Regions from separate parts of the Homo sapiens genome. Here region 2 is linked to region 1. Evidence: fine-mapped expression QTL. A gene starts in region 1. The other region holds a variant in brackets. All regions are shown on one strand. Distances are from middle to middle. Region 1 holds the start of L1TD1 (LINE1 type transposase domain containing 1). Region 2 overlaps KANK4 (KN motif and ankyrin repeat domains 4).

Evidence for each region. PIP is the estimated chance that this variant, and not a neighbour inherited with it, causes the effect. A credible set is the group of variants that fine-mapping cannot tell apart.
Region 2: its variant is the best candidate, but not a certain one, in a credible set for the expression of L1TD1 in whole blood (TOPMed, PIP 0.63).

Annotation. Positions count from the first base shown.
Region 1 is chr1:62,192,640-62,197,158 of GRCh38, forward strand. It overlaps L1TD1 (LINE1 type transposase domain containing 1), which reads left to right and starts at 2,210. Exons shown (of 4, transcript NM_019079.5): 1 at 2,210-2,282; 2 at 3,796-3,889. RefSeq lists enhancers at 1,353-2,209, 2,210-3,065.
Region 2 is chr1:62,270,464-62,274,463 of GRCh38, forward strand. KANK4 (KN motif and ankyrin repeat domains 4) reads right to left here. Exons shown (of 10, transcript NM_181712.5): 3 at 2,741-4,000; 4 at 1,015-1,126. Among named protein-coding and RNA genes, the nearest start is that of KANK4, 47 kb to the right of the region's middle. The variant G/A (reference allele first, on the strand shown) is at 1,631.

The DNA of each region.
Region 1 (4,519 bases):
ACCTTGCCCAGTTTTTTTTTTTTTTTTTTTTAGACAAGGTCTTGCTCTGTCACCCAGGCTGGAGTGTAGTGGTGTGATTGTAACTGCCCAATGGGTTCACCTTGCCCACTGCCTACACAGAGCCCATTTATCAAGACAGGGGAATTGCAATAGAGAAAGAGTAATTCACACAGAGTGGGCTGTGTGGGAGACCAGAGTTTTATTACTCAAATCAATCTCCCCAAGCATTCAGGGATCAGAGTTTTTAAGGACAACTTGGTGGGAGGGGGGAAGCCAGTGAGCTGGGAGTGCTGATTGGTCAGATCAGAGATGAAATCATAGGGAGTCAAAGCTGTCTTCTTGCGCTGAATCAATTCCTGGGTGGGGGCCACCAAGATCATATCAGCCAGTTTATTGATCTGGGTGGTACCAGCTGATCCGTCAAGTGCAGGATCTGCAAAATATCTGTGGAATATCTCCCTGGTCTTAGGTTTTGCAGTAGTGGTCTTATCCCCAGAAGCCATTTGGGGAGAGTCAGAGTCTTGTAGCCTCCAGCTGCATGACTCCTAAACCATAATTTCTAATCCTGTGGCTAATTTGTTAGTACTGCAAAGGCAGTCTAAATCCCCAGGGTTTGTTTCGGGAAAGGGCTGTTATCATCTTTGTTTTAAACTATGAACAAGTGATCCTCCCACCTCAGCCTCCCAAAGTGCTGGGATTTTAGGCAGTAAGAAGAAATAAGGGATTAAAAGCAAAAGACCGAATTCTCTTTGTTTATTCATATGCTGTGTATTGACTGAACTACCAGATATTGAGGCTTCTTTGCTTATTAGCTGCATGACTTTGGGCAAGTCAAGTTCCACCTGAGCCTTGCAAGTCAGGCCTGGGGAGTCCAACCACCCAGAACCTTTGAGTCTCTGTTAGAGAGCAAGACCCTCTCTTAAGAAACAAAAATAAAACAAAAAAAGAGTATTGGGATATGGGGAGTTTGGCTCCTGTAGAAAGGGTAGTCTGGGAGGCCTGTTAGAGGAGTTAACATTGGACCTGAGACCTGAGGATGAACAGAAGCCATCCTGAAAGAACTGGGAAAATAAAGAGGTGGCCAGGCGTGGTGGCGCACGCCTGTAATCCCATCACTTTGGGAAGCTGAGGTGGGCGGATCACCAGGTCAGAAGTTCAAGACCAGCCTGACCAACATGGTGAAACCCCCCTCTACTAAAAATACAAAAACTAGCCAGGCGTGGTGGCATGGGCCTGTAATCTCAGCTACTCAGGAGGCTGAGGCAGGAGAAATCGCTTGAATCCAGGAGGCAGAGGTTGCAGTGAGCCGAGATTGCGCCACTGCACTCCAGCCTGGGTGACATAAGAAAACTCTGTCTCAAAAAGAAAAAAAAAAAATACAAAAATTTTCCGGGAGTGGTGGCGTGCTCCTGTAATCCCAGCTACTTGGGAGGCTAAGGCAGGAGAATTGCTTGAACCCAGGAGGCCGGGGTTGCAGTGAGCCAAGATCATGCCACTGCACTCCAGCTGTGGCAACAGAGACTGTCTCAAAAAAAAAAAAAAAGAAAGAAAGAAAGAAAGAAAAAGAAAAAAATAACTCGCAGAGGAAACAGCCAGTGCAAGGGCCCTGAGGCAGGTAGTTCCGTGTTTTTTGAGGAACAGAAAGAGAGTGTTTCTGTTGTAAGAGTAGTGCTAAGACAATGTTGAAGGGGCAGTCCGGATAGAATGAGAAGGTAGAAATTTAACCGAAACAGGAAGCCACTGAACAGTATTGGAGGGGGAGAAGGATTACAGAGGGGTCGTGGGAGAGGCCAGGGAGCAGTTGGAGGTGATTTCAGTGATCCAGGTGAGAGACAACGGGGGCTTGGACTGGGCTGGAGCTGTGGAGTTGGAGAGACGCCGGCAAATTCAAGGACTTAGGAATGGATTAACTGCGAGGGTTGAAGAAAAGGAATGAGGTGACCTTGGGGTTCAGGCCTGGGTGATGAGGCGCTTTAGTGGTGCCTTTATTCAGATTTGAGTCTGGAGTCGGGTCTGAGGGGTGGGGCTCGTTCAAGCGGAGGCACGGTGGAGACAGAGGGAATTGGACTCAGTCGGGGGGCAGCAATGGAAGTCAGCAATTGCTTAGGGCGGAATGCGATTTCCGGGGAGGAGGCGCGGGTATGTAGACAGAGGGGGTTGGGACACACCAGGAGGGGAGGAGCCAGCCCCAGAGATCGGGAATCCTCTCAGTCCTTAGTTACAAGGCTCCATCCTCACTTTGTTCGCTCCTCAGTCGTCCAGGCGGATTCCTTTTTCGCCAGGTAAGGCTGGCCCGGGTGCATGGGGCCCGGCGTGCCCTGGGTAAGGCTGGCCCAGGCGCGTGGGGTCCGGGGCGCGCCGGGTAAGGCTGGGCCAGGCGCGTGGGGTCCGGGGTGCCCCGGGTAAGGCTGGTCCAGGGGCGTGGGGTCCGGGGTGCCCCGGGTAAGGCTGGTCTAGGCGCGTGGGGTCCGCAGCGCCCCAAGTAAGGCTGGTCCAGGAGCGTGAGGTCCAGGGTGCCCCGGATAAGGCTGGTCCAGGCGCGAAGGGCGCGGGGTGCCCCGGGTAAGGCTGGCCCAGGTACGTGAGGCCCGAGGTGCCCCAGGCAAGGCTGATCCGGGTGCGTGCGTGGGGCCCGGGTAGGGGCAGGCAGTTGGCCCCCTCACTTGACTCCCTGCTCTTTCCCTTACTGTCCGTGGCGCAATGAGAAAAAAACTCTCCTAAGACTTATCTATCCCCAAATTGGAAACATGAAAGTAGTTCTGTGAAGAAAAAATAAAGTCAAGAAAATGAGGTGGTGCTTGACAAGTCCTAGCTTTAGAAAAAGGATGGAGGGGCCGGGAGCAGTGGCTCACGCCTGTAATCCCAGCACTTTGGGAAGCCGAGGCGGGCGGATCACCTGAGGTCGGAGTTCGAGACCATCCTGACCAACATGGAGAAACCTCGTCTCTACTAAAAATACAAAATTAGCCAGGCGTGGTGGCGCATGCCTGTAATCCTAGCTACTCAGGAGGCTGAGGCAGGAGAATCGCTTGAACCCGAGAGGCAGAGGTTGCACTGAGACGAGATCGCGCCATTGCGCTCCAGACTGGGCAACAGGGGCGAAACTGTCTCAAATAAAAAAAGATGGAGGGCCGGGCGTGTTATTTTCCAGCACTTTGGGAGGCCGAGGCGGGGGCGGATCACGAGGTCAGGAGATCGAGACCATCCTGGCCAACTTGGGAAACCCCGTCTCTACCAAAAATACAAAATTAGCCGGGTGTGTTGGCTCGCGCCTGTAGTCCCAGCTACTAGGGAGGCCGAGGCAGGAGAATCGCTTGAACCGGGGAGGCGGAGGTTGCAGTGAGCCGAGATCGGGCCACTACACTCCAGCCTGGGCGGCAGAGCGAAACTCCGTCTCAAAAAAAAAAAAAAGTGTTTAATTATGTGACTGGAAAAATTGATTTGGAAGTAATAACTTTTGCATTTTCTTCAATTTCCTCCGATTGTTAGGCAAATCGAATTCTTGTTCAAATTGCAAAAGGAAAGCGTGCCTTCCATAATAATAGACCCCAACTCTCACAAAGAAGAAACCATTCTCTCCGGCCCCTCCCTGGCCTCCTCAGATCCACCTCTGGGTCCTCCCATTCCCTGCAGCCCTCTCCCGACTTACACCCCAGACTCTGCTAATTGTGTGTGCCTTTTTAAGCAAACACATGCATAGATAAGTGCTTTTTTTTCCCAGTCTTCAATATAAGGTGATTTTCTACATTAAATAAACCTTAAACTTTGGTGTTATGAACTTGACTTGAATTCTAGGCACCAAGGCACAGCTTAGAGTAGACCCGAGTCCTGCTCTGCGGAGTTCGTCTTCCCAGCGAAGGTACAGAGGCGGATGAACTGCTGAGACTTGGTAAGTAGTTTAGTGGATTAGGGGTAGGATTAGTGGCGGGTAAGTGTGCGGGTGGGGTTGGGGTGGGGTATTTCATTTTTTGAGACGGAGTTTCGCTCTTGTCGCCCAGGCTGGAGTGCAATGGTGCCATCTCCGCTCACTGCAACCTACGCCTCCTGGGTTCAAGCGATTCTACTCCCTCAGCCTCCCAAGTAGCTGGGATTACAGGCGCCTGCCATTATACCCGGCTAATTTTTGTATTTTTAGTAGAGACGGGGTTTTGCCATTCGGCCAGGGTGGTCTCGAGCTCCTGACCTCAGGTGATCCTTCCACCTCCATCTCCTAAAGTGATGGGATTACAGGCGTGAGTCACTGCGCCTGGACTGGGGAGGGGTATTTTAGAGTGAAACAAGGGAAATGACCTTGGGTCTGATAAAGAAATGAGCCCTACTTATAATCTAGTGTGGGTCAGGACCCTTTTGCAGTCTGGTGCTATTAGCAGAACCCACAGTTCGTCATCGCTAGAAACCACATTTTGTTTCACATAACAGTTGTTGCAGGTTTTGCATTCTCACTACTTCAAGATTAAAAGGTAGGGCCAGGTGTGGTGGCTCACACCTGTAATCCCAGCACTTTGGGAGGTTGAGGAGG
Region 2 (4,000 bases), 78 kb after region 1:
AACCTCTGCCTCCTGGATTCAAGCGATTCTCCTGCCTCAGCCTCCTGAGTAGCTGGGACTGCAGGTGCATGTCCCCACACCCAACTAATTTTGTATTTTTAGTAGAGATGGGGTTTCACCATGTTGGCCAGGCTGATCTTGAAATCCTGGCCTCAGGTGATCTGTCCACCTGAGCCTCCCAAAGCGCTGGGATTACAGGCATGAGCCACAGCGACTGGCCCCAGTTCATCATTTCTGATGTTTCCCCTTGTTGGCGTCTAATGTCTTCCCTTCTGGTGTGACTCAAATTAGCAGGGATTCTGAGCTCTCTGGGCAGCCTTCAGGGTTTGGGCTTCCACAGCATCCTGTGCTTCCTCACCTAACAAAACTTATCTCAGCACATCAGCATTTCATCTTTATTTCTGTTATCTGTGAGCTAAAGGCAGAGACCTTTATTTATTTGACTTTTTAATCTCCACGACCGAGCACACTGTTGGCATTTAATAAATGTTTGTTGAATGACTGATTTAGAAAATATTCTAAATCAAACATTCAATTCTATAGAATATATGAGGTTTTGTTCATGTTCTAAGCCAATAGTCTAGTTGTTTTTCTTCATCCCCAAACACTTGGGTTTGGCTTGCAGGAAGTTAAAGAAAGAAAAAAATTAAATGGATGAAATTTGAAGTTCCACGAATTAACAGAATTTGTACTAGTTTCAGTTTTATGGTTCAGGTTAAATGTCTTCCTCTAAGGGCCCGTATACCCCCAAAACTCCCAGAAGCCACCTGGAGTCCTGGCCCTGGGGAAGACCAAAGCCAAGACATATTAAAAGCAGAGGTTCCAACAGACCACCACAGCTGGCAAGAAGCCAAACGCATGCAAACCCGAGATGGAGTTTTAAAGGGCCATTGAAATTAATTCCCTTGAAGAGGAATGAAAACCAGATGCCTCCCCCTAGGAAAAGAGAGTGCAAAGGACAATAGCAGGAGAGGTAGCAAGAAAGGCAGTCTGAGCTTCACAAGCGATGCTTACCCACCGTTAACCCCAACAAACTGAAGGTTCTTTTTGGTCCCATTACCTCCTGCACGGAAGCCATAGTCTTTCTTTTTCATTATGGATTTAAGGCTGGTCGATGGGGAGATCTCTAGGCAGACACAACATCACAGGTTAGAATGATCTTGGGGATGCATGGGAATGTAGCAAAACCAGGATATTGCTTTGAGGGGACAAGGGTTGCAGGTGTGTGGAGAGGTAAGGAGGGACAGGGAACCAGATCATGTAAATCAATGTTTTGGGGACCTCTTGGAGGAGCCTTGCTTTCTGCTCAATGTTGGGAGAACTGTCTCTGTTAACAATGCCCCTCTAAGTGTGGATGAAGAACCATGTGGCGTAGGTGCCATTGTTGTCCCTGTCTTACAGCTGGGAAATCTGAGGCCCAGACTTGCTCAGTGAATGGGAGTGTAGGAGCAGAACGTAGGCCTCTGGACTCATGGTCTAGCACCCACTTCTGCTCAAGGGCACCTCAGTGGTCCTTCCTGGCTCACAAGTGCATACTGACACTAGGGTTGTGGGGGTGGTGATGACACCGTGCTCACAGTAGATACACGAGCAAGGACACAGATCTTGCAATGTGCTCAACAGGACAGGA[G/A]GCGGCTCCCAACGGGGAAGGCTAGAACTAGCACTGAAACAATGAGAAAGCAGTCAAATTGTGATTTGTGGCAGGAAGCAGACTCGCATGCTGCCCTGCAAAGCAAAACGTGGTTCCACTTTACCCGACAGTGAAGAGGGTTTGATCTGTTACAACAGGAAGTGCTGCTCAGCCGAAGGGCCCATTTCCATATGTGAGCAGCACTTAATCTCCTGCCCCTGTACACACACACATGCACGTACACACACACATGCACGCAGAGAAAATATTCAGTGAACTATACCAGATATCAATATAATGCTCCTCCAAAACCAGGCCAGAGAAAACCTCTACTATGCAAGAACCAGAGAGGAACACAGGAATGCAAAAGCCCAGGAAGAGGTCTGGAGTCCACGCAGCAGGGCCATTCTTGGCCCCAGACACTGCCTTTGCACAATGCAAATGAGAACAGCCCCCTCTGGGTGGATGTGGTGCTGCAGCGCAAGGCTTGGCAAATGGAGTGTGGGCTGGCTTTCAACTCTCATTTGCCCTCCCTGGCTGGCATCTTTGTGCCCTGTGCTATCCATACAGCTGTAGGCAGTGGGCCCATAGTCAGACCCAACCTTAGAGCAAAGGCAAGAGTAGAGGTCCCGAGCCTCCACTGTCACACACATCAGTTTTTATTCCACTGGGTTCCTGGAAGTACTAAAATCTTTTTTTCTTTTTTTTTTTTTTTGAGATGGAGTCTTGCTCTGTCACCCAGGCTGGAGTGCAGTGGTATGATCTCGGCTCACTGCAACCTCCGCCTCCTGGGTTCAAGTGATTCTCCTGCCTCAGCCTCCCAAGTAGCTGGGATTACAGGCTCCTGCCACCATGCCCGGCTAATTTTTGTATTTTTAGTAGAGATGGGTTTTCGCCATGTTGACCAGGCTGGTCTTGAACTCCTGATCTCAGGAGATCTTCCCACCTCCGCCTCCCAAAGTGCTGGGATTACAGGCCTGAGCCACTGCTCCCAGCTGCTAAAATCTTTTTAAAAACATGTTAATATAATTGAAAACCTTGTTCCCTCTGCCTTATCATGTGAAGGAGAAATGGCTCCCTGTCTCAGGCCCCTATATTGATGGTATTTACCCACTGGCGGGGAGGAGGAGGAGGCCGGTGGCTCCTTGGGTGGGTGAGCCTGGGCCGAGTAGGCCGACAGCAGCAGGTTGAGGGAGCTCAGCAGCTGGCTCTGGATGCTGCTGAGCTTGGAGGCTGGCTGCTTGATGGCGCTGGCCAGCTCCGGGTACCCATGCTCCAGGCAGTTCCACTGCTCCTGCAGGAGCTCCTGGATCTTCTTCACATACTGCCCAATAGTGGCATCCGTTGGCGAGCTTGGTGGCCTTCCCGGGTGCTCCTTCCCTGGGAGATTGGAACTGGTCTCCTCCCTCCCTGCTGGGGGAGTCTTTCTGTCGCTGCCCCACAGAAAGCCTCCTGCTCCCCTGGTTCCTCCCTGAGGGCCTCCTTCCTGTTCAGTGCCTGCTTCTTCAATCCTGAGTTCAGTGGAGAGGAAGCTATGTACAGAGGAGGTAAGGACCTGCTCGGGTCCCTGTGGCAGTGACAGCTGGGGCAGAAGCACACGTTCTGCTGGGCTCTGATTCCCTTGTTTATGACCATCTGGCCCCCATAGGAGGCCATTCTCCTCTCCTCGGTGCCCCCAGCTTTCAGACTCCATGCTGCCTAGAAGGTTGACTTCAATGCCCTTATCACACGACTCCCTGGTCAAGAGTCCATGGACAGGGTCAGTGTTCACCATCACGTCCGTCTGGCCCTGAGTGTCTTTGGCGTTCTCTTGGTGAAACTGTCCTTCCAGTTGGGCTACAGTGAACTCCAGCTCTCGAATTCTTTGCTCCCTAGCTTTGATTTCCTCTTCCTGCTGCTGGAGAGCAGTTCTGACCTGTGCCAGTTCCTCGGTTCTTCCAGACAACTCTCCCTCCAGGGCCGAGACCTGCTGTTTCAGGCTGGAGATGCTGCCTGGATCCACCCTGGCAAGGCCCAGGCTTTCCTCAGTTACCCTGATGCCAATGCTTCTCATGTCCACCTCTACAGGTGGCGGGGGTGGAATCTCGCTGATGTTGAGCTCGATTTCTTCCAGGAGGAGCTCATTCTCAGGGATGGGTGATGGCAGAGGTGGCGGGCTTGGCGTAGGGGAGCCAGGGGTGAACAACACCTCTGCTTCTCTGGCATTGTGTTCATCTTCCTTGTCCTCTAGAACTACAAGCACATTCTGGAATGAGAAAGGAGGGCCTGGGAGAGGGAGGTGATTTGGAACCTTCACCACACCCTCTGGAGGCTCAGCTCCCTCCTGGACCAGCTCTGGAATCCGAGTTGATGCTCGTGGGCTGGAGCTGT